Linked DNA regions of Homo sapiens. The protein of the gene in region 1 purifies or fractionates together with the protein of each later gene. This does not show direct contact. Each region holds a gene or a part of one and is shown in the gene's direction. Other genes may lie near its edges. The genes, in order: GRHL1, WDR43, KDM6A, TRPS1, ARID3B, RREB1 and TOP2B.

What was found.
Region 2: the proteins of GRHL1 (region 1) and WDR43 purify together in Homo sapiens (co-immunoprecipitation; one large-scale study listed by IntAct). This does not show direct contact.
Region 3: the proteins of GRHL1 (region 1) and KDM6A purify together in Homo sapiens (co-immunoprecipitation; one large-scale study listed by IntAct). This does not show direct contact.
Region 4: the proteins of GRHL1 (region 1) and TRPS1 purify together in Homo sapiens (co-immunoprecipitation; one large-scale study listed by IntAct). This does not show direct contact.
Region 5: the proteins of GRHL1 (region 1) and ARID3B purify together in Homo sapiens (co-immunoprecipitation; one large-scale study listed by IntAct). This does not show direct contact.
Region 6: the proteins of GRHL1 (region 1) and RREB1 purify together in Homo sapiens (co-immunoprecipitation; one large-scale study listed by IntAct). This does not show direct contact.
Region 7: the proteins of GRHL1 (region 1) and TOP2B purify together in Homo sapiens (co-immunoprecipitation; one large-scale study listed by IntAct). This does not show direct contact.

What each region holds. Positions count from the first base shown.
Region 1 is NC_000002.12:9,961,693-9,965,192, forward strand, and holds part of GRHL1 (grainyhead-like protein 1 homolog), read left to right. Parts: intron 1-762; coding exon 763-839; intron 840-2,193; coding exon 2,194-2,350; intron 2,351-2,542; coding exon 2,543-2,654; intron 2,655-3,500. UniProt on the Homo sapiens protein: Transcription factor involved in epithelial development. Binds directly to the consensus DNA sequence 5'-AACCGGTT-3'.
Region 2 is NC_000002.12:28,943,167-28,946,666, forward strand, and holds part of WDR43 (WD repeat-containing protein 43), read left to right. Parts: intron 1-3,283; coding exon 3,284-3,333; intron 3,334-3,433; coding exon 3,434-3,500. UniProt on the Homo sapiens protein: Ribosome biogenesis factor that coordinates hyperactive transcription and ribogenesis. Part of the small subunit (SSU) processome, first precursor of the small eukaryotic ribosomal subunit.
Region 3 is NC_000023.11:44,879,688-44,883,187, forward strand, and holds part of KDM6A (lysine-specific demethylase 6A), read left to right. Parts: intron 1-3,500. UniProt on the Homo sapiens protein: Histone demethylase that specifically demethylates 'Lys-27' of histone H3, thereby playing a central role in histone code. Demethylates trimethylated and dimethylated but not monomethylated H3 'Lys-27'.
Region 4 is NC_000008.11:115,602,976-115,606,475, reverse strand, and holds part of TRPS1 (zinc finger transcription factor Trps1), read left to right. Parts: intron 1-1,473; coding exon 1,474-2,603; intron 2,604-3,500. UniProt on the Homo sapiens protein: Transcriptional repressor. Binds specifically to GATA sequences and represses expression of GATA-regulated genes at selected sites and stages in vertebrate development. Regulates chondrocyte proliferation and differentiation.
Region 5 is NC_000015.10:74,575,720-74,579,219, forward strand, and holds part of ARID3B (AT-rich interactive domain-containing protein 3B), read left to right. Parts: intron 1-3,500. UniProt on the Homo sapiens protein: Transcription factor which may be involved in neuroblastoma growth and malignant transformation. Favors nuclear targeting of ARID3A.
Region 6 is NC_000006.12:7,114,461-7,117,960, forward strand, and holds part of RREB1 (ras-responsive element-binding protein 1), read left to right. Parts: intron 1-3,500.
Region 7 is NC_000003.12:25,602,408-25,605,907, reverse strand, and holds part of TOP2B (DNA topoisomerase 2-beta), read left to right. Parts: intron 1-1,037; coding exon 1,038-1,148; intron 1,149-3,500. UniProt on the Homo sapiens protein: Key decatenating enzyme that alters DNA topology by binding to two double-stranded DNA molecules, generating a double-stranded break in one of the strands, passing the intact strand through the broken strand, and religating the broken strand.

The sequences.
Region 1 (3,500 bases):
CTGGAGAAAGAGAACCCCATACATAATCTTCTGTTGACCACAGGTAGATTCTCCTAGTCTGTTTTCAGCACTTCTCCCAGTGCCAAACAAGCTCCCTGGAGCTCATATAAAATGAGTTATTATATCTTTGCTTGGTGTTTCTTGGTTGGTAATGTAGTCAGGGAGAGCACAAATGCATTGTGTGAGGTTTACAAATTAATTCCAAATAGTTCTGGGGGTTTTATGGTGATGAATACCTCACTCAGCTAAAAGTTAGGGACTAAAGGTGTTAGAAACCATACTTAGTGACTTGGTGGGGTAAAGAGCATCCATCTCTGCGTATGGAGTTAGGGGCAGAATGTTAGCCTTTCCTGAGAAAATGCACCACATCTCTTCAGCTGTGGTGTGAACTTGATGCTGTGTCTTAACTTGGTATAATGATAGGGTGACTTTTAAAAGTCATGAAATTTTGGTTGCAGGTCCTAGTGTTTGAACAGAGTTGGGATGTGTGTGAAAGACAGAAAAGGGGGTCGTGAGTCAGAAGCACTTAGTGGGAGTACCTACACAGCTTGTTGTAATTTACTTGAGTGGCATATAAAAGTGGATATTTTCTCTGTTTTAATTTTTTAAGTATTTGTAGAATCAAAATTTTTACTCAAAAATAAATATGGAAAGGATAGTGGGTTGCTGTAAGCCACATACTTTTATGCGGTACCAGAGCTTGGTCTTTAGTAAGCATGATAACCAGTTAAATAGTTGTGGCTTATCACATTGATATTTCAGGTTTTCTTCCCCTCGGATCTCAGTCTGCGGATGCCTGGCATGAATTCAGAGGACTATGTTTTTGACAGTGTTTCTGGGTAATAGATGTCTTTTAATTTGATTTTTAATTTGCAGCTTTTATAACTTATTCCTTTCTTGTTAACTTGATAAATCAAAGGTGGCTTTAGCAGGCTTTCCCCTTATCTTACTACTTTTACTGTGGTACAGTCTTGGGTAGAGGACATCTGCTTCAGTGCTTTTAATTTTGAACTCTTTGAACTATGTTTCAAGTTTCCTTAATTCTTGGTGTTGGTGCTTTTTCTTTCTTTTGGATTCTTTATGTGATGGTAGTAGAATGGAATCTAATAGGAGAGATGAGGGGATTAAATTAGGTCTCTGAGGTCCTTTCTGTTGCCAAATATATATAATTAGGTGAGAATTTAGGAGTAATATCAAGTGATAAAAGCTTTTTTTTTTTAAAATCAGCCTCACTAATGATAAAATAAATGAAGTCAACTTTTTTCTGAGCTGACAACTTTCTTTTGACCTCACAAAATTGTATCTCACTCTGGGAGTATGAATATTTTCCAAGTTAATTAGGAACTCATATTTTGTTTTATGTGTTTTTTACATGTGTTATATTTTACAGTTTTAAAAGTGTCTAAGATTTTATGGGAATTGAGACTTCCCTTATAGATCTGCCTCAAGATGCAGGAGTCCCAAATGGAAATACCTTTAGGGTTTAGGATAGGGGTCAGCTAACTTTTTCTGTAAAGACTCAGAGAGTAAATATTTCAGGCTTTGTGGGCCATACAACCTCTGTATATTTTTGCAACTACCCCGGTCTGCCATTGTGCAAAAGCAGCCATAGGTAATGTGTAAACAAATGATGTGGCTATGTGCTAATAAAACTTTAGTTACAAAAATAGGTGTAATCTGCTGAGCCGTGGCCTGGGAAGGTTCTTAAACAACTTTAGGGGCATATATGAGTGGTAGTGTTAGGTAATAGGTAATGTCGAGAATTGTGGAGTGCCTGCCTATTAAAGACATTTAAATTACAAGTAGGAACAACAAAAAAATGCTATATAGGCCAAAAGGAATTTAGTCAGAGGAACACCAGCCACCTGTCTGAAACCTCTGCTGGATAAATATCAGATTGGCAGCATGTCTTGTGAGAAGTTCCTTCCAAAGTCCTTTCCACCTATCAGTATCTTTAATATCTCGAGCCCTCAAACTCAGGATGTCCGATTACTGACATCCATCACATCATAGAATTTTTAATCGGCAATTTGTACTTCCACCTCTGAGAGACTTGAGAATTTTTAGCTGCTGAGTACTTTTGTTTCAGATTTTCTTTAAGTGAAAAAGATAGCAAATGCTATTTATAATATGATGTATAGCAAGCTTCCACGAGAGTAGATTTAGAGACCTGTGACTTTTTTTGTCCTTTAGGAACAACTTTGAATATACCCTAGAAGCTTCAAAATCACTTCGACAGAAGCCAGGAGACAGTACCATGACGTACCTGAACAAAGGCCAGTTCTATCCCATCACCTTGAAGGAGGTGAGCAGCAGTGAAGGAATCCATCATCCCATCAGCAAAGTTCGAGTAAGTTCTGCTCTTAGTCCTGTTCTCTAGGAAAGCTAGTCAGAGCCTAACATTTCCAGGTCTGAAGCAGCTCTGAATGACCGCCTGAAATTGCAGCTTTAAGCCTTCACTGTAAAATATAGTACTAAATACGTTTTCCAAAACATACTCACCCTTTAGTGTCTTTATGTTGTAATGCATTCTCTTTCACAGAGTGTGATCATGGTGGTTTTTGCTGAAGACAAAAGCAGAGAAGATCAGTTAAGGCATTGGAAGTACTGGCACTCCCGGCAGCACACCGCTAAACAAAGATGCATTGACATAGGTAAGCAGCTCAAGAGCCCGCTTTTATTCCCAGAGGTGCAGCCATCCAGTTTTCTAAATCCAATTATTTTTGGCAGTGATCAGCTTCCTGCCGAAAGCATTTGAATTTTTATGCCAGCTACTGATCTGTTCCAAACACTGTCCTCGGCCTCCTGGAACCAGTGCTCTCACCATTGCTCCCATGCAGTAATGGGACATGTGCCCACGTGGTGGCTTTCCACAGGACACTAGGGCCAGAAGCCATGTAGCTGGCTAACCTGAGAATGTCCCCACTGTTCAGTCTGCAATTGCTTTAAGGGGTAATATCTTCTTTAAAAGATTCTGATTATTATTTGGAGATGATGGAGGTAGAGAAAAAAACAAGTAAAAGAAAGATATTGCTGCTGTGCAGTTGCCTAACAGTCTTCCCTAGTCACGTGCTAAACCGTGTAACTAACCTCTCTGTGGGCTGTAGTGGCAAACCTGTGCAAATCTGTATTTACTGAAGTAGCGTTACACAGACCTCTGTTCTTGCCATGTATGTAATTTTCATGTAAAACCATTGTCTGTATCACAGATGGCTGTTTAATATTAGTGTTACTTTTTTTCTTTACCTTTTGTAATGCTCTTGTTTCCTTTTCAGGAGAATGAGAACTCAGTTCTAATCTTGGTTCTACAGAGTAGTTTTGTGACCTTGGGACTGTTATTTAAACTTTTTAGACTTAAATTTCCTAATTGTGACATAATGAGATTGAATTAAATATGTCTAAGCTTGCCTCTATTACAAAAACTCTGTGATTCTTTTTCTTCGTATTTTGAACTTCTTCTAATCGAACAAAATGTTAATTTAAATTGTCCAGAGGTGATA
Region 2 (3,500 bases), about 19 Mb from region 1:
TGTTGCTCAGGCTGGAGTGCAGTGGCTCGAGGTCAATCATAGCTCACTGCAGCCTCAAACTCTTACACTCAAGCGATCATCCTGCTTCAGCCTCTAGAGTAGCTGGGACTGTTGAGCCACCATGCCTGGCCAATTTTCTTTTTTTAAAGGTAGAGATGAGGTCTCTTTGTTGCCCAAGCTGATCTTGTACACCGTGGCCTCAAAAACGGTCTTCTCGCGTCAGCTTCCCAAAGTGCTGGGAATAGAAGCATGACCCACAACACTGGGCTGTCCTTTTTGTCATGTACTGGCAATTTAGTCATTTTATGAGCCAAGTATAATCTTGATAACAAAACCTGGAAATGTCAAAAAGGGAACATTTTAGATCATCCTCAAATACCCTGAGTAGCAAATTGATTATAGAAGTGTAGGGTTACAGAGTTAATGTGCAATAATAGACAGCTAGACCAATAGATTGGCAATAGCTACCCCTGAAAAACCCGTAGTTCTGTGGACTCTTGGTGTGTTTATTGATGGTGTGTATTGTATCATTGTGGAGAAGATAGCCTGCTCAGTAAGTTGTTAGAAACACTGATAATTTATATGGAACAAAAAATTTTACCATTATCACATCACACATCACATTCCATATTGTGAGAAATGGATAAATTTGAAAGAGTGAAAATGGTCAGGTGTTGGCCATGATTTGGGAAATGGGAGCTCATGCTGTGGTGGGAGTACATGTGCATTCTTTTTAGAGAGCAACTTTGTAATCTCAAAGTTGACAATTTGCATATCCTTCCATTCATCAAGTGCAGTCCCAAAGTGATCCCAAAGTGCTTGTGTGTATCCCAGTGACCAATACTTCTCCAAGTATGAACAGAGGACCTGTGGGGATGCCCAGAACTCTTTGAGCGGCTCATGATGTCCTCCGCTTTTCAATCGGTCATCTGTGGGAGGCTAGATTTTCTTCATATAGTTCAAATAAAACAACATATCCAAAAAATAGAGTGGAGAAGCAGATATGAGAAGTTTTTAATAGTGCCATTCTACTTAGTAGAATTTGTTGTTGTTTTGGAAATTCCATTTTTCAATTTTAGTGTATGTGCTGCCGAAGAGAGCACAGAAATACTGTTTTTCATTAAATTGATTTGTGTTAACATGTAATGGATGGGCATTTGTAAACAGATTAAATATTCTTAAATTTAAAAATTGAATTTGAATGTGATAAATATAGATAGACTTTTCCCACATAAACAAAAACTTTTTGGAGACCTCAGTTTTTTAAGAATGTGAAAGCATTTTAAGGCTAAAAGGCTTGACAACATAGCTTTAAAACATATATGTAGAGATTATATAAGTATGTTCATTGCAGCCTTTATAATTAAGAAAAAGACTTGTGAACAACATAATTCTTCATTAGTGGGAGCATGTTTAAAATGGTTTATTCCTTTAGCATAACACTACATTGGTGAGAGTGCCTGGAGTTGAGATCGAGTTAACACGCATAAGTTTGATTACAAAACCAAGTCAAAAAATGATACCTTCTGTGTAGCATCGTGTAATTGTATTAGTAAGCAAAATAAGGGTGGCTTGAACATAAGCTCCGCGATACTGCAACATTCGATTTGATAACTGAGGTGGCTACTAAACGACTAACGGGTGGCTAGTGTAGACAGCGAAGCTGGACAAAGGGATGATTTACCTCTCCGGCCAGGCGGAGCCAGATAGCACGGCACTTCATCACGCTGCACATAACAGGGCGCAATTTAAAACTTAGGGATCCTGGATTTGGTACATTTTCCATTTAATATTTTTGGATTGCAGTTGCCAGGGGAAACTGAAACTGGGGAAAAGGAACACATATTGGGGGAACTGCTGCATATGTCTTTCATGAATATGTACATGTGTAATTCATGGGTAGTATGATGTATGTGTTATAACAGCATACTGGAGAATGAGAAGCTCACAATAGTGGTTTCTTTTGGGGAATGGGCTTAGGGAGATGGGCATGTAAGGGAACTTCATCTGGAGATAATGATTTATTTTCTTAAGAAAAAGTAGATAGAAGAAGAATGTTAGAATATCTTAAAAAAATAGGAATCCCATTCTGTATTATTGGATAACATTAGCACACCTAATGAAATCAATTCCTTAGTTTTATCCAATGCCCAGTTTATCTTCATCTTTCTCCAGTTATCCGTAAAATATCCTTTAAAGCTGTTTTTCCCAAACTAGACTCGAGTTTTGCATCATGGGGTTGAATCTGGCTACTGTGTTTCTGAAGACTCTTTTTAGTCTTTAAGAACTCCCTTTTTCATGACATGGACTTGGTGAAGAGACTGGGAAGTGTATTTCACAGAATGCCCCACCTTATGTTTGTGGATTTGCTTCCTTTTGGTTTCTTTTAATTTGCTCCTCTAAGCTACAGTTCCTTTAAACTGGATGTGAGGCCTAAAGGTTTGATTGGATTTTATTTTTGGAGGGTTGCATCAATGCTGATCGTTCATATTGCAGCACACTAAGAACCACATTGTGCCTGTTATCAGTTTTTTCCTCTCCATTGTGAGATATATCTTCCTTAGTGCTTAGAAAATAATCTAGCTGTGTTAATTTTTGTTTTAACGTTTGCATGTTTTCCCCCAACAATCATACATCTAATATATCAGTTGCTAATATTTCATTATTAGTACTTTATGGGTTAAATAATGCTAATTCTTCCATTTCGTTTATAAGCCAGCTTTTCTGTGTTGAATTTTTCCTCATCCACTGGGGCTATTTGGTGGCCCTGATAGGGCTTAGTATTTAAAGATGAGATTTTTGTAAGGGTTTGGCTAGTTGGTTTGGACCGGTGAGATCTTGAAGGAATAATATAATGAATATACTTTTATACATGTAAGAATAAATTAGCCAGGTGTGGTGGCTCATGCCTATAATCCCAGCACTTTGGGAGGCAGACGTGAGCGGATCCTTTGAGTCCAGGAGTTTGAGATCGGCCTGGGCAACATGGTGAAACCCTGTCTATACCAAAAATTAGCTGGGTGTGGCGGCTACTCAGGAGGCTGAGGCAGGAGCCTGAGGCTTGAACCTGGGAGGCAGAGGTTGCAGTGAGCCAAGATTGCTCCACTGCACTCCAGCCTGCAAAAAAAAAAAATAATAAAATAATGTTATTTCTTAGTTGGATGATTGCTAAATATAAATAATATTTCTAAAAGTAAATTCAGGAATCTGGTTCTGCTTAATTTCCAGGCTGTACCCTCTGTTTTGTTCTAAAATTAAGGCTGGGTTCTTTCTCCCCTTACAGAGTCTTCTGAAGAGGAGTCTGATGATGAAATAGCAGATAAGGATTCTGAAGTGAGTGATTTGTTCCCTGTATATACATCGGCCTTTATATCCTCATACTCTGTAAGAATGAGACCTTCATGAATGCTTTCCTTGTTGGTATTTCGACTAGGATAATTGGGATGAAGATGAGGAGGAGAGTGAAAGTGAAAAAGATGAGGACGTTGAAGAGGAAGATG
Region 3 (3,500 bases), on another chromosome or scaffold:
CCATCTTTGGGAGAAGAAAAATGTGAAATATTCTGAAAGTTTATGAGAAAGGTAAATTTAACAATTCACAAGTTAGAATGGCTCTTAAAGATGGGGATTGTTTGTTGATTGTGTTTCTTGGAGATGGTATTTCTTGATTTAGATGTTAGCAAGGCATCTTATAATTTTGTTTAGGAAAACATGATTTAAAAATCACATTTTAAGGCTGGGTGTGGTGGCTCACACCTGTAGTCCCAGCACTTTGGGAGGCTGAGGTGGGCGGATCACTTGAGGTCAGGAGTTTGAGACCAGCCTGACCAATATGGTGAAACCACGTCTCTACTAAAAATATAAAAATTAGCCGGGCGTGGTGGCGTGCACCTGTAGTCCCAGCTACTTGGGAGGCTGAGACAGGAGAATTGCTTGAACCTGGGAGGCAGAGGTTGCAGTGAGCTGAGATGGTGCCACTGCACTCCAGCCTGGGCGACAGAGCGAGACTTCATCTCAAAAAAAAAAAAAAAAAATCACATTTTAGCTTTTAGCAGATGTTCAAAGGATGATCTGCTGTGTGTTCTGTCCTTCTTTGATTTCATTTTGTAGTAATATTTACCTTGTTATGAGTTCTTAACTTGAGATTCTTAAATGAGTGTTCATGGGTCAATTTAAATTCTCTGACAGAGTTTGGAAGGACACTCAGGATGACTTAATGGTCATCTTGGAGTACAAGACACTTTTGGGGTGAGAAGGAGGGGAGATTTTAAACTGTTTTATAGATTTCTGTACTGCTTTTTTTTTTTTTTTTAACACCGTAGACATATATTACCTTAAAAATAATACAATAAGGCCAGGCGTGGTGGCTCGTGCCTGTAATCCCAGCACTTTGGGAGACTGAGGCGGATGGATCAACTGAGGTCAGGAGTTCGAGACCAGCCTGGCCAAAGTGGCAAAACCTCATCTCCACTAAAAACACAAAAAATTAGCCAGGCGTGGTGGTGGGCGCCTGTAATCCCAGCTACTTGGGAGGCTGAGGCAGGAGAATTGTTTGAACCAAGGAGGCGGAGGTTGCAGTGAGCCGAGATCGCGCCACTGCACTCCAGCCTGGGCAACAGAGCATGTCTCCATCTCAAACAAACAAACAAAAAAAAGTACTCTGATAGTACACCAGAATGTTATATTTTGGTTGACTAAAAATGGGTTTAAACTACCATGTCTATAGTTAGAAGAGATACTTGTAAAGGCCTTTCTTGCATTTTAATTACAGTCTGAAGTTGGGATACTTTTGAACTTGATGTTCCTTCAGTGAGGGTAGGAGTGAATGGAGTAGAGATGTACCCAATTAGGTCCTATTTCTTTGTGTTTTAGATGGCTTTGTGACAGTCACTGCGCTCATTCTTCATTTTGATCTTTAGCATTTCATTGCTGACTTTATTTTGAGTCTGATTTGGCACAGGCTGATACTTGGGACCTGATTAAGAACTGTAACCTGGGCCGGGCGCGGTGGCGCATGCCTGTAATCCCAGCACTTTGGGAGGCCGAGGCGGGCATCACGAGGTCAGGAGCTCGAGACCAGCCTGGCTAACATGGTGAAACCCCGTCTCTACTAAAAATACAAAAATTATCTGGGTGTGATGGCGCGTACCTGTAATCCCAGCTACTCGAGAGGCTGAGGCAGGAGAATATTGCTTGAACCCAGGAGATGGAGATTGCAGTGAGCCGAGATCGTGCCACTGAACTCCAGCCTGGCGACAGAGCAAGACACCATCTCAAAAACAAAAAACAACAAAAAAACTGTCACCTGGAAGGGTGGGAGTAATCCCTTGTTAGACAGTTTTAGGTTTCTGAGCTAATTTGTAGACTGCTTGCAACTTTCTTCTATAAGCTTTTATTATTTTTTCTCTTACCTATTTCTTCCTTATATTCCATCATTTGTTTACTTCTGTATATTATTAAAACTGTTGGTGGTGTTCCATTGTGAATGTATTCTTGTATGCTTTTTGTAATTTTCTCTGTGGTACTATTTTGTCTTTTTTTTTTTTTTGAGATGGCATTTCACTTTTGTTGCCCAGGCTGCAGTGCAATGTCGCAATCTCGACTCACTGCAACCTCCGTCTCCAGGGTTCGAGCGATTCTCCTTCCTCAGCCTCCTGAGTAGCTGACATTACAGGTGTGCACCACCACGCCTAGCTAATTTTTGTATTATTAGTAGAGATGGGGTTTCACTGTGTTCGCCAGGCTGGTCTCCAACTCCTGACCTCAGTTGATCCCCCCGCGTCGGCCTCCTGAAGTGCTGGGATTACAAGCGTGAGCCACCATGCCTGGCTGAGTATTTTGCCTTTGTTAGAATAAATAGAAGATGCTGCTGCTAAGTTTATTCTCAGGAAGAAAGTTGGGGTTATACTTAAGGGTATTATATAAGGTCATCTAATTCATTTTAGTTTAGAACAGTGGAAGAAATTGTTTTAGACAAAGGGTTATTTTTAAACTACAAATTTATTACGTGTTCATTAGATTTTTCTCTCTTTTTGAAAAAAAAGTTTATTAGGAAAAATTTTCAGTGTTTTCAGAAAGTATTGCAAATCAACCATCACCCAGCTTTAATAGTTTGCAACTCATGACCAGTCCTGTTTCATCTATATATATTTTGCCCCTCACTCATGTTATTTTGAAGCACATCTCAGCAATCAGTCACAGCATTTAATCCATAGATGTTTGTTTCTGAAACATAACCGTGATGCCCTTATTACATGTAAAATAATTTCTTAATCTCAAATATCTGTGGACCTTGTTTTTTGCTGTATGGAAGTTAAGAAATAATTGCTTGGAAAATGAGTAGAAAACATGTTTAGCTGAGTATGTGATGTGAATTTTGTTTGTATTTTGATACTGCTATAGTGTTCTGTGATAGAATATTACATAATATGTGACACAAGAGGTAATTTTTCCTGAGAACTTTATGAATCATAGTTGCTTGAGTCTGGATAGTTTTTATTTTTAGGGAAAATTTGTTTTCAAGATACAGTAGTTAAATAAATATTTTAGGTTTCTGAATTTCAAATATCAGAATGAGAACTACAAAAGCTTTTGCTTTGCTTGATTGATTGGTGAAACATTTGTTGAGCTGCTGTGGGTGAGGGATTGTGTCAGGTTCTGGGGCAACCAATAAGACCTGGCCTCTGTCCTGCAGTCAGTCTGTTGGGAGAGGCTGACAGACTGAGTGATCATATGATGTATTAAGTGTAATAATAAAGATACATGCAAAGTGCTGTGAGCTCTGAAATGATGGAGTAATTAAAACATTTAAAACTTTTTATTATGCATCATTTAAAGTATGTACAGGTATTGAAGGTAGTTTAATGAACTCCTGTTTTCAACGGTTCTCCACATTTTGGAGCAGTTAAGTTTTTTTTTTTTTTTGAGGCAGGGTCTCACTATGTCAGCTGTCACCCAGGCTGAGTGCAGCGATGCTATCTCGGCTCACTGCAACCTCTGCCTCCCAGGCTCAAGCAATTCTCCTGTCTCAG
Region 4 (3,500 bases), on another chromosome or scaffold:
CCTTTGATTAAAGGCTGTGGAAAACTTCTGTAAGATCCTATCTTAATGTACAGTAAATGTTGAGTTGTTTATATATTAATGCACATTTCTTAGAACTATAATACTGGACATAAATTTGGAGGTTGCCCCAGTTGAAGAAGCTATTGGCCAGAGAGATTAAGTAATTTGATCAAGGTCACATCTCTTTTTAATAGCAAAAAGAATACTTCAATCTTAGTCCTGTACAATAGAGGTACAAACATATCTCTCAGTGTACTACAGCAATATTATTTGCATTTCAAATAGAGCCTTTACGTGATTTTGAGATGCCTGAGACTTTTCTCATGCAGTGATTTGGATATGAACAGCGATCACACGTGTCATTTTTGAACAGCTGTTGAAGAAGGCAGAAGATGATTATGCCACTTGCTTAATATATTACATCTGGTTGCTGGGAAAATTTAAAAATTCCCTGGTGGTTGGAAGAGAAATTGTTTTCCCTTTTTGGAGTATTTCATTCAAAAAACTCTATTTTAACTCTGAATTTTGGCTGCTCAGTGGTGGCTTAATTGTACTGCCTATTGAGGTGCACACTGAGAATGGAGGAAGGATTTTATGCAAAGTGCCCTTTGAAGGCTTTCATAGTCCTGATTCCATGTAATTTCATAATTTGGGAAAGAAAGCAGAGTTGTAGTGATTTTTTATGGTGGAATTATTTTATTTTACCATTCAGACATCATGACCTACTCATGTGAGAAGTTGGGAGCCCTTTGCAATGAAACAGAACCTTAATCAAATAAGGCATGGAAGATTTTTCTTTTTTTTTGTTTGTTCTAGATGGGGAAACATTCAAAATTCTTTATTTACACGGTTCTTCTTTGCTAGTATTTCCTGCATACTCAATTCATCTTTTTGTTTGTTTCACTGTGCTTTAATTATAAGCCATTTTGGGTGGTCATTGGAGCACCTTTATTTTACCTAAAACAGAGACCTCATCTTTGCCTGCAGCCTCATTGCTGTAGGAACTGAACAGAATATTTCCTTGGAGAACATCTGCATTGAGTAATTTTTGAGCAAGTGCCTCTAGTTTTGACAGTAACGCTTCACCTTTTGAAAAGAAATCCCATGTGATTTGGATGCTTCTGTAGGAATGTGATTTGAAGGAGGCAATAGTAAAATGTACTGTGTTGAAAATTGTTTTCTTAGTTTAAAAAATGTATTATTAAGTCTTTCAAATTATAGTGCATTTATTACTTACCTTCACCTGTTACTTTGGCCTACAGTGTATAACATAATGAGCCTCTCAAAGAGTAGCTGTTGAGAAATGAAGAGTGAATTTATTTGGCTCTGATTATTCAAGTGATTTCATAATAAGCAGGAGTACTATTGTATTTTTTGATGTGGAATACTTGGCAGTACCCTCCCCCTCCCCTGCAGAGGGCCCATTGAATTAATGACACCTTGGAAGTAAAGTCCATTTCTTCTGTTCTCCAGGTGACTTCAGGTGGAACATTCATTGGCATTGGACGGAAAACACCAGATTGCCAAGGGAACACCAAGTATTTCCGCTGTAAATTCTGCAATTTCACTTATATGGGCAACTCATCCACCGAATTAGAACAACATTTTCTTCAGACTCACCCAAACAAAATAAAAGCTTCTCTCCCCTCCTCTGAGGTTGCAAAACCTTCAGAGAAAAACTCTAACAAGTCCATCCCTGCACTTCAATCCAGTGATTCTGGAGACTTGGGAAAATGGCAGGACAAGATAACAGTCAAAGCAGGAGATGACACTCCTGTTGGGTACTCAGTGCCCATAAAGCCCCTCGATTCCTCTAGACAAAATGGTACAGAGGCCACCAGTTACTACTGGTGTAAATTTTGTAGTTTCAGCTGTGAGTCATCTAGCTCACTTAAACTGCTAGAACATTATGGCAAGCAGCACGGAGCAGTGCAGTCAGGCGGCCTTAATCCAGAGTTAAATGATAAGCTTTCCAGGGGCTCTGTCATTAATCAGAATGATCTAGCCAAAAGTTCAGAAGGAGAGACAATGACCAAGACAGACAAGAGCTCGAGTGGGGCTAAAAAGAAGGACTTCTCCAGCAAGGGAGCCGAGGATAATATGGTAACGAGCTATAATTGTCAGTTCTGTGACTTCCGATATTCCAAAAGCCATGGCCCTGATGTAATTGTAGTGGGGCCACTTCTCCGTCATTATCAACAGCTCCATAACATTCACAAGTGTACCATTAAACACTGTCCATTCTGTCCCAGAGGACTTTGCAGCCCAGAAAAGCACCTTGGAGAAATTACTTATCCGTTTGCTTGTAGAAAAAGTAATTGTTCCCACTGTGCACTCTTGCTTCTGCACTTGTCTCCTGGGGCGGCTGGAAGCTCGCGAGTCAAACATCAGTGCCATCAGTGTTCATTCACCACCCCTGACGTAGATGTACTCCTCTTTCACTATGAAAGTGTGCATGAGTCCCAAGCATCGGATGTCAAACAAGAAGCAAATCACCTGCAAGGATCGGATGGGCAGCAGTCTGTCAAGGAAAGCAAAGAACACTCATGTACCAAATGTGATTTTATTACCCAAGTGGAAGAAGAGATTTCCCGACACTACAGGTGAGGCATGGGGGGTGGGGTCGGGAGGAATATACAAATAAAATAATAGAAAAAATCCATAGAAAGAGGGCTGAACCGGGAATTGTTGAGAGTGATTCCAATGACTTGGGGAAGTTATAGGAGAAGACCACATAAAAGTTCATCACAGATTTGCAGGTGATATAGTTACAGCTGTGATCACTGTAGATTTTAATTTGGTTCCTTCTTTTGGACTGTATGCTCATGTTTCATACTTGTGTTATACCATTTACTGATTGTCTTTTTAAATTCACAGTGATTCTAATAATGCTGATGAGTTTACTAATTTACCGTAGTCCATTTATTTATCCTTACTAAATATGACTCCACATCCTATATTTTTTTGACAGAGCTAAATGAAAGATGCTATTGTAAATATATCCTATTCTCTATTCTGCAAAAAAATTTTGAGAACCTGTTGCTCATTTTTATTTTAAAATGAGATTATATATTCTTCTGGCTTTGAACAATTCTGCAACATCCTTGTTTAGCATACAAACAGTAATCTAAAGGTGAGAATTTTTGTACTATGTGTGATTTTGGATGTAGACTTGCTCCTCCAAGCAGGTAAAACTGCTTGAGTTATTCCAGATTCTTAAATGGATGTGGGAAGTTTGTGTTTTCCTTCTGCTTTCACTCTATTCTCTTTATAAACATTAACTTTCCCAGTTAATCTTTTATAATATCTAGAGATAAGCATAGGATATGTATCTTTATTTCATGTATGCATTCATTCTTTAATTAATTGATTTCAAAAATCCTATTGTACCAGGCATTGAATATACAAGAGAAGACATAGTCAGTGCCCTCATGGAACTTACAGTTTAGTAGGGAAGATGAGACACTTAGATGATTACAAGAGTAATAAGTGTCATAAAA
Region 5 (3,500 bases), on another chromosome or scaffold:
AATCTTTGTCCTGTCTTCAGCACTTACGTCAGGTATTTCACTGTTTGCTGGCATTACCAACAGAAGGGAAACGGTTCTGTCTGCCACTTGTTACTTTAATAAAAGGTTTCTCAGCCTCAGCACTGTTGACTTTGGGATGGGTAGTCCTTGTTGTGGAGACTGTCCTGTGCACTGTAGGATTTTGTTTTTAATTTTGAGACAGGGTCTCACTCTGTTGCCTCAGCTGGAGTGCAGTGGTGCGATCATAGCTCACTACAGCCTCAAAGTGCTGAGCTGAAGCCTTTCTCCTGTTTCAGCCTCCTGAGTAGCTGGGACTATAGGTAGGCACCACCATGCCTGGCTAACTTTTTTGTTCTGTAGAAATGAGGTCTCACTATGTTGCCCAGGCTGGTATTGAACTCCTGACCTCAAGTGATCCTCCCACCTCGGCTTTTCAGAGTGCTGGGATTACAGGTATGAGCCACCGCACCTGGTTACTGTAGGACGTTTAGCAGTATCCATGGCCTCTATCCACTAGATACCAATATCAGCCCCTCAGTCACAACAACCAAAAATGTCTCTAGATGTCATAAATGTCCCCTGGAGGGCAAAATTGTCCCGTTGAGACCCTCTGGCATGGAAAGATGAGAAAGAGAATAAAGATGTAAAATATCCTCTGCAAGAAAAACTCTTAGCTGAGTGTGGTGGCTCACGCCTGTAATCCCACCACTGTGGGAGGCTGAGGTGGGAGGCTCAGGTGAGTCTCAGTAACATAGTGAGACCTTCTCTCTACAAAAAATGAAAACAAAATTAGCCAGGCATAGTGATGCATGCCTGTAGTCCCAAGCTACTTGGGAGGCTGAGGTGGGCAAATTGCTCGAGCCGGGGACTTGGGGGCCGTCATGGAGGCCAACATTGCGCCACTGCCCTCCAGCCTGGCCAAAAAGTGAGACCCTGTCTCAAAAAAAAAAAAACTTTTTATGAAAATCATCTTACCTCCAGTCAGGTACATGAGAGCAAGCCGTGTTAGGTAGCATTGTTTCCTGTGACTGAGTGCCAAAGGAGTGAGTGCTGGGGCCTCACCCTGGCCTGCAGTGCAGAGAAAGGCTCTGAGAAGAGCTGTGGCTCTAGTGTATCAGACCCAACCATGGAGGTGGAGGAAAAAATGCTGTGACACATGTGGCCCTGGTGTAGCTGGAAGAACCCTTGTTGATGGCCCAGAGCCAGGGGCCATCCTGGATGGGTCAGCTGGCATGAGACTCTGAAGAGCCATGTTTGCCCAAAAAGCGCTTCAGTCTGTAGATATAGCTGAGTTATTGAAGGCAAAATATTGGCTTTCAGGAAACTTGCCGTGGCAGTGTATAGTTGGGCTAGAGAGGAGAGACTGAGGCAGGAAGATAGTGTAGAGGTTGTTATTCCCAGCGATCTCCTTTCTAGAAAACTCTTATCTGGTAGTCCGAACTAGAGTGAGTGGTTCAGGAGGGTTGGGAGTGGGGCATGGTGGCTCATGCCTATAATTCCAGCACTTTGGGAGGCCTAGGTGGGAGGATCACTTGAGACCATGAGTTTGAGATCAGCCTGGGCAACGTAACAAGACCCCATCCCTGTAATTTAAAAAAAAAAAAAAGAAGATGTAATCCCAGCTACCCAGGAGGCTGAGTCAGGAGAATCACTTGAACCCGGGAGGCGGAGGTTGCAGTGAGCCAAGATCGCACCATTGCACTCCAGCCTGGGTGACGAGCGAAACTCCATCTCAGAAATAAAAAAGAAGAAGAAAATTTTAAAAGAGGGGTGGGAGCAGATTGCACTTTTATTTTAATTAATTATTTTATTTATTTTTGAGACAGGGTCTCACTCTATTGCCCAAGCTGGAGTGTAGTGGCGCAATCATGGCTCATCGCACCCTTGACCTCCCCAGGCTCAGGTGATCCTCCCACCTCAGCCTCCTGAGAATCTGGGCCTACAGGTGTGCACCACCACACTCAGCTAATTTTTCTGTTTTTTTGTGTGTGTGTGTGTGGAGACGAGGCCCTTATGTTGCCCAGGCTGGTAGCAAATTCCTGGGCTCAAGTGATCCAACTGCCTGAGCCTCCCAAAGTGCTGGGATTACAGGCATGAACCACCACACCGTGCTGGGCCTCAGATTACAGTTTTAATCATGTGAGGCTTGCTGTCTTTGTTCCTTTTTTTGAGACAGAGTCCCAGTCTGGAGTTCAGTGGTCGATCTCAGCTTACCGCAACCTTCCCATCCCGGGTTCAAGTGATTCTCGTGCCTCAGCCTCCCAAGTAGCTGAGATTACAGCCATGCACCACCATGCCTGGCTAATTTTTATATTTTTTAGTAAAAACAGTTTCACCATGTTGGCCAGGCTGGTCTCAAACTCCTGGCCTCGAGTGATCCGCCTGCCTCCGACTCCCAAAGTACTGGAATTACAGACATGAGCCACCGCACCTGGCCTGTCTTTTTTTTGTTTTTTTTTGTTTTTTTTGTTTTAAGCAAAGTCTCCCTCTGTAGCCCAGGCTGGAGTGTAGTGGCACCATCTCGGCTCACTGCAACCTCCACCTCCTGGGTTCAAGCTATTCTCCTGCCTCAGCCTCCCAAGTAGCTGGGATTACAGGCATGTACCATTGCACCTGGCTAATTTTTTGTATTTTTAGTAGAGACAGGATTTCACCATGTTGGCCAGGCTGGTTTTGAGCTCCCAACCTCAGGTAATCCGCCCGCGTCGGCCTCCTAAAGTGTTAGGATTACAGGCATGAGCCACCGAGCCCGGCTGTCTTTGTTCTTAACAGAATGGTGAGAACAAGGGCCCTTAGACATTTGTGACTTGTCACTTGTGGAGTGTCTGGGGGACACAGGAGGCAGATCTTGCTAGTTGGGACCAAGGAAAAGCCTCATAGACCTCAGCAGCAGGTCAGGGACTTGGCCTCCATAGCTAATATGAAAGGTAAGCAGTAGATATCACAGGAGTCACTGGAAATAGCCTGAGTTAGCCTGGACAACATAGTGAGACCCTGTCTCTACAAAAAAAACATTTTTTTTTAATTAGCTGAGTGTGGTGGCATGCGCCTGTGGTCTCAGCTACTTTGGAGGCTGAGGTGGGAGGATCACTTGAGCTTGGAAGGTCAAGGCTACAGTGAGCTGAGTTCATGCCATTGCACTACAACCTGGGCAACAGAGTGAGACCTTGTCTCAAAAAACAAAAGAAAGAAGGAAAGGGAAAGGGAAATGCAAGGAAGAAAGAAAGAAAGAAACGAAAGAAAATAGCCTGAGTTTGAAAGGCCCGGAGACACCCAGGTGGGCTGTGAGAGGGGCCAGCAGCTTTGACACAGCAGGCTGTGCCCACAGAGGAAGCAGACAGCTCTGAGGGATGCAGCACACAGCAGGCCGCCCCGAATGACCGCAGCTGCAGGTGATAAAATGGCTGTCCAGTGGGAGACAGGGACGGGCCATAACTGCTGCTTTGTGCTGTATCTCTTGCTTGTTAACATGTTTGGGTGAATTGACTGCAACAGATGGG
Region 6 (3,500 bases), on another chromosome or scaffold:
TTTCTGGTGGGGGGGGGGGCGGCAGCGGGGAGCTGCTACTGGCCTTTAGTGCATAGACCCCAAAGATGCTGTTCCACATCTTGGAGTGCACAGAACGACCCCCATACGTCAGCAGAGCTGAGGTTGAGAAAGCCTGCTTGAAAGGTACAGTAGTCGTGGCCTGGGTCTCATCTACAAGTCCACTGGGTGCGCTGCCTGTATTGCATGCGATATATTTAGAAATCTGAAATTCCATAAAGCAAGTAAGCTCTTATTTGCCTCTGAGGTACCATGGTTGGCAAGTTCGAAGTTTCACAGAAAATTTGGGGTTGAGGAAAATGTTAAGTGGCATTAAATATATTTGAAAACCCCGTAGTAAATGAAAATTCTAGAAGTCATCTACTTCTAAAACAAACTAGATTCATTGGCTTTGTGAAGCTGTTGTGGTCGATGGCTCAGCTTTCCCAGTCACCTCTTCAGTTATTTGGGAAACTTGCTCTGGTGCTGTCATCTGCAGCCTCCTTCATGTTCTAAGTTATGTGGAGTATACCTTTTTTTTTTTTTAAGTGTTTGAACTAGCCCTTACTTGCTTAACAGTTAATGTTTTTGCATTCGTAGTCTCCCTTGTTTTATTTTCTCAAGTTTTTGCAAAATTCTTACATAACCGTCTGCCGTTTTTATAGGGCAGTGTTTCTGAGCCGGGTGCTCTGTCCATACATCTCCTCTTGAGAGGGTGGATGGCTGCCAGCTGCTGTGGTTGGGAGGGATAGGGAGGGAGTAAGGGGATGCAGGGTAGGAGGCGGTGATTATTTTTATGTTAAGGGACCCCAGGCCTCAGACCAGAAATGTCTAATATAGTGTCAGGAGTGATCTTTTAGCCAGCAAGTGTTAACTGATCTGACCCTTGGCCTTCCCCCCCACCCCCCAGCCTATCACACAGACAGGAGGTAAGGAAACCATAGAGGGGAGAAGAAAACAGGGAGACAGAGATCGAATTCCAGAAAAGGAAGGGCTGCCAGTGGTAGGCAGAGTCACCCCTAGAGTGGCCTGGGCTCCCACTTTATAGACATGTGCAATACTTGAAGATAGCTCTTTTTACATCTAAACCAGCGGTTAGTCAGTGTCCCATTGGTGTCAGTCGCACTGATGGTGCTCAGGGCCATTGCTCTGCAGCCACCTTTGCAGTCCCATACGTGGTAACGAGTCCTGTTCCTGCAGAACGCACTCTGCGTTCTGGTGCTTTTCTGTCTTCTCGTCTAACCTATAAACTGCCAACTCCCAACTCTATATCTCCATTTACAACTTCTCCCAAGCTTGAACCTTTTGTCACCCTGATCACCCTGCAAGTACCTTACCCTGCAGGTACTTGTAAAAATGAAAGTCCTCTCCCTTCCTTCTGGAAGGTGATCACCATCCACCCAGCCTTCTAGGCCAGGAGTCTTACTGCCGTCCTGACGTATGTCTGTCCTGCCCCAATGTTCGATCAGTCACCAGGCCCTCTGCAAAACCACACTCCAGTCTGGCCCTGGCATTGGCTGTTCTATCGTTTCTGACCTAAGGCCCTCATCAAGTCACAAACGCCTCCCAAGTTAATTTCCTGCCACCAGTTTCTCCTTACTGCAGTTCATCCTCCACTCTGCTGCCAGAATCATCAGAACTAAAGCCGTGCGTGGTGTTTGCCTGCTTAAAAACATCTCTTGGCTCTCTGTTGTCTACAGGAAGAAATCCAAACTCCTTAACTTGGCATACAAGGAACTTCGTCTGCTTCCAAGCTGAATTTCTAGTCTCAGCTCTTGTCACTCTCTTCTACCCCACTGCCACACTGAATTGATTCTTACTGCCTCCTGTTGCCTGGATTGTTCATTCTGTTGCATCCCCATCCCCTTCCTTCAGCAATAAAAATTTTGTACTCTTTTTTTCAAGACCCAGCTTAAATACTACCTCTTCTATGGAGAATTAGCTCTTCTGTTGTGAGTAACTTTTACCCCCATCTGTCAAGTCTTGTCTGTTGTAATTTATCTCTTAACATGTTTCTCTCACTTCAAGAATATTTTCCCATCTCCTGCACCTAGAACGATTGCATAGTTGGTGCTCACTCACCACTGTGTGTTGATTTCTGATACAAAAATGAGAGTTTCTGAAGATTTTGGAGAATAGCCACATGTAATTTGGAAGCTAAGGCCTAAATAGTGCTACAAATTCAATGAAGGAAATAGACATGAACTAACGATTTCAGCATACCCATCATGCAGAAGGTGGTGCTAGGTGGGAAAGAATTAAGTTCTTTGGTGGGAAAGAATTTTGAATTACAGAAATTCTAAAATAAAAGTTGGCTCAGCTTAATGTAAAAGTGAAAAAAACTCCTTGTTAATGCCTGGTTGCACTAAAAGCTGTCACACTGGGGCCTTTACTAATTATAACCATTTTTCATGGCTCTTGATTTGAAGTTTACATTAAATAGGAGAGATGGGCACACAGATCAAAGACCAAAATCATTTCAGAGCTCCAATGTGTGGGCCCATTTTCTCTGCTTAGTTAGAGTTTTGTTTCATTAGTGGTATGAGTTAATAGGAGTGTTGGTCTGTGTATAATTTAGCTTCTCTTTTTTCCATTACTCGTAGGATTCAAAACAGAATACCAAGCCAGAAATCTACAGGGTATAAATCTTGCTTTATGTGTTTGTATGTGTCTGTGTATGTGCAGTATACACGTGGTAATAGTTGATTTTAGATCATATTTATAAAAATAATCATTTTCACTGTTTTAAGGGAGCTCCCTTTATTCTGACACTTCAGTGTAAAAAACAAAACATTTCTCTGAATATACAAAATCAAAATCTTAATTTTCTCATAAAAGAGGTAGATATGTCTTCAGAAATAGGGGAGATAACCAGGAAGATGGGGTGGGTGTTCTGAAACACAAAGGTGAACCATGTGAATAGGTTTCCTGTTTTTTTTTTTTTTTTTTTTTTTTTTTTTTTTTTTTTGAGACGAAGTGTTTTACTCTTGTCACCGAGGCTGGAGTGCAATGGCGCAGTCTTGGCTCACTGCAACCTCCGCCTCCCAGGTTCAAGCGATTCTCTTAGCCTCCCGAGTAGCTGGGATTACAGGCGCCTACCACCACACCCAGCTAATTTTTGTATTTTTTTTAGTAGAGATGGGGTTTCACCATGTTGGCCAGGCTGGTCTTGAACTCCTGACCTCAGGTGATCTGCCCACCTTGGACTCCCAGAGTGCTGGGATTACAGGCATGAGCCACCGCGCCCCACCAGATTTCCTTTTTAAACAATGAATTTTTATTTTTTATTTTTTTGGAGACAGGGTCTCTCTATGTTGCTCATGCTGGTCTCAAATTCCTAAACTCCTGGGATGGAGCAGTCCTCCTACCTCAGCCTCCCAAAGTGTTGAGATTACAGGTATGAGGTATGAGCCACTGAGCCTGACATGAATTTAAAAAAGCAAAAAGAAGAAAATGACATAGTGTGTGGAAGTTCTTGGTATTTTTTATACAAGATGAAATCC
Region 7 (3,500 bases), on another chromosome or scaffold:
CTCAAGATAATAAGGCTTCTTTACTTTTTCTGAGGTGATTCCTAACTAATTGGTCAAAATAGGCATTATGGAAGCATTTAGGTGGACAGGCAAATGCTTATCTGTGTTTATGGGTGTGAGTGTATGTGTAGTGTTTTAATGAGAGAAAAGAAATAATGAAATTTTGAAAGCTTGAAATTTGATTTTCATGGCAATGTGAATGTATATACGACAGTTTTCTAAATCTGTAAGGGCACCAGTGTGATTGCAGATTGGTTGTTACCTGAGAGATTAAAACCGTCATAAGAACAAATTTAATCAGTGTGTATACTTCTTGTTTCGTATTTTTTTTGTGTATGGAATTTTTAAGGTCACTTAATTGATTCACTATCATTTTTTAATACACACATCTATACATTTAGACATATTTGGTACATATTCTATATGTATACGTACTCATTTTTGACAGTGTGTCAAAAGAGTTGTGTAAACATATTTATTTACATCCAAGTAGCTATTTTAAAAGTTTGTGCTATGGTGTTAGGGAAGAACGCATTACACTAATTTGAGTGCAAGAGTAAACTGAAGGTAAGCCTGTCTGCCTTTTAAATTAGTCTTCAAAAATTTATTTAAAAATAGGAATACTTACTATTCTTTTAGATTTAAACATTATTACTGATATTCCTGAAATGGTTAATAGTATTATTTGTGTAGGTACTAAAATAATACAGTGGGACATTTTCATATCTCATTTTAAAATAAATTGGCAGCATGTATTTTTGAATTGGTCAGTTATGTTTTAAATATTTAGCATTTGGGACTTTTAATTTTTACTACTTTATGCACTTCTGTGTTATTTCACCACATAGTTAACATTTTTGGTGTATAACTGATACATTTTATTTTTAGCTGTTTGTATATTGTGGATTATTTGGTCACAAAATAGTAACATAAGATCAATTGTCTAGCTAAAGGGAAGTCATCAGTTAAAAGAGTCAAAGTTTACTGAGAGATCTTTATAACATCTCTTTACTAAAAGAAGGCTTTGCAATTTTTAGATTCAGCTAAATTTGACAGTAATGAAGAAGATTCTGCTTCTGTTTTTTCACCATCATTTGGTCTGAAACAGACAGATAAAGTTCCAAGTAAAACGGTAGCTGCTAAAAAGGGTATGTACTTATATTTGATTGAGTTAAGCATTGGATAGAGATAGTTAATGTAAAAGGAAATGTAATTTAATTTGAAACTATTTGCATTTTTTTATCATAAAACAATTAAGAAGTATAAGTGCTTATAAGGAGAACCTCTCGTTTTCTAGCCATCTGAGGGCGTTAATAAAATTTCTGTAAGACTTAATTTTAAAGCTGTTGTAATTATAAAATAATCCCGTGCATTACTATCTAAAGATAGCTTTCTACAAAAGCTCCCTTGTGGTTAGGTTGTAATGGAGATTAAAATTTTGTCTTGCTAGTAGCTTGCTTCTGTTATCTATGTTGATCATGACTCAACTCCTTATGTGGAGGGATTGGTCAGCTCAGTTGAGGTCCTCTTTTTCTATGTGAGTCATGCAGCTTCTCTCTTTTTCACAGCCTTAGATTGGCCACAAAACACTTTGAGTTGATTAATGAATCTCTTACTAGTACCAAGATATATGTACCGTGGTCTTTTTGAAAGAGGTCAGTATTTGTGCTTTGTGTTTGAAGGATGACACTTAAAAAAAACCCCACAAATCTAATTGAGATGTGTGCTATTTAAGACAGCAAGTAAATAATATGGATTGTTCCCTCAAGGATTTTAAAAATTCACAACAGACAACATCATTACAGACACATGTATTGAATGTAGCAGAACAACAATTTTGAAAAGTCCTGCTTATTCTGAATGCAGTAGAACCATATTGAGAAACTGGTTATTTACAAGAGTCTCTGTAGCCAACACACTGGGTGACCTACCCATGTCCCTTACCACTTAGTGCATATTGGGCAATATCTGCCTTTCGTTGCCTGAGGACTTCCTCTTTGCCACTGTGCTGGAATATTAACACCCCCCTGCTCCCAGCTGCCTTTAACTAGCAGATTGAGGAAAGTTGGTCTATAAATATCTCAGTGTCCTTGCCTCTCATGTGAGCCAACTGTGGGATGTGTGTTTCACACTGGGACTCAAAAATTTCTTATGGAATTAAGCTCCTAGAGTGATGATTGGCTTGGTAACTTACCTATTACTGGCTGCCTTCTCTTCATTGTCTCATTTTTGTCTCCCCCTCCTTTATCTCTCAAATAAATACTTATACTTGAATCCATACTCTAGGATTAGGCAGATTGGCCCAAATCTGGGGAACCCACATTGAGATGGACCCTATAATTTCTCTTTTTTAAAAAAACAATCAGGCTGGGCGCAGTGGCTCACACCTGTAATCCCAGAACTCTGGGAGGTCGAGGCAGGCAGATTGCTTGAGGTCAAGAGTTTAAGACCAGCCTGGCCAACATGGCAAAACCCCATCTCTACTAAAAATACAAAAATTAGCCTGGTGTGGTGGCGTATGCATGCCTGTAGTCCCAGCTACTCAGGAAGCTGAGGCACAAGAATCGCTTGAACTTGGGAGGCAGAGGTTGCAGTGAGCTGAGATGGCACCACTGCACTCCAGCCTGGACGGTAGAGTGAGACTCCATCTCAAATAACAACAACAGAACAATCAAAAAGCACCTTTAAAAAATAATCTTCATATGAGCATCTTATAAACACCCTGAAAACTTGGGAGCCGTATTACTTCCTGAAACATACCCCGTTTCCTTCATCAAACTGTTCACCCATATTTAACCTAATGAGTTTAGCATGACCAAAAAGCTAGATTATCATGGTACCTATCCTACTTGCTTCCTTCTTCAGTAGCTGAACTGGCCTTGTCTAAGTTGAATAGGTAGACTGCCTGTGTGGTGTGATTTCAGGGACCCCAGCAAGTCCTCAGCTTTCCTTTAGCCTCCCTTACGAAATATAATTCCAATAAAATATCATTTCAAGAAGAGGATGCATCATATCCCTCTGTGGGATTGTCTATGTTAACTCCAAATTGCGTATGTTACACAAGTTAAATTCTGTAGTTCCAATAGTTTACAGCAGAAAGGCAGCTATAGTACTCAGATATCTGACCTGTTTGCCTGGTAGAATTGAAAGTGCCATGTAACTCCAAGCCAAGGAAAAAAAGTGGTTCCTAGAACACCTGGCTAAGTTTATACTCCCTGCTAGGAGCTGCCCTGTGGTTCTTGTGGTAGATATAGTCATGAAGACTCAGGTGGGAAAAGCCACACAATCTGGGTGCCACTTTCCTAGGGCTCCTCCTGCTCTTGGCTAACGAGGGGCCTTATTTGTAGTGTCTCAAATTGCGACTGGAATACATTTTCCATAGAATCAGTGTAGGTTTTTTTTTTTTTTTAAACAAAGTCTACAGTTAATATATTTTCTTCCAAATTAGGTTTTCTTAATTACAAAAAGTGATTTATCAGTTTTTTTTTTTTCTTTTTCTT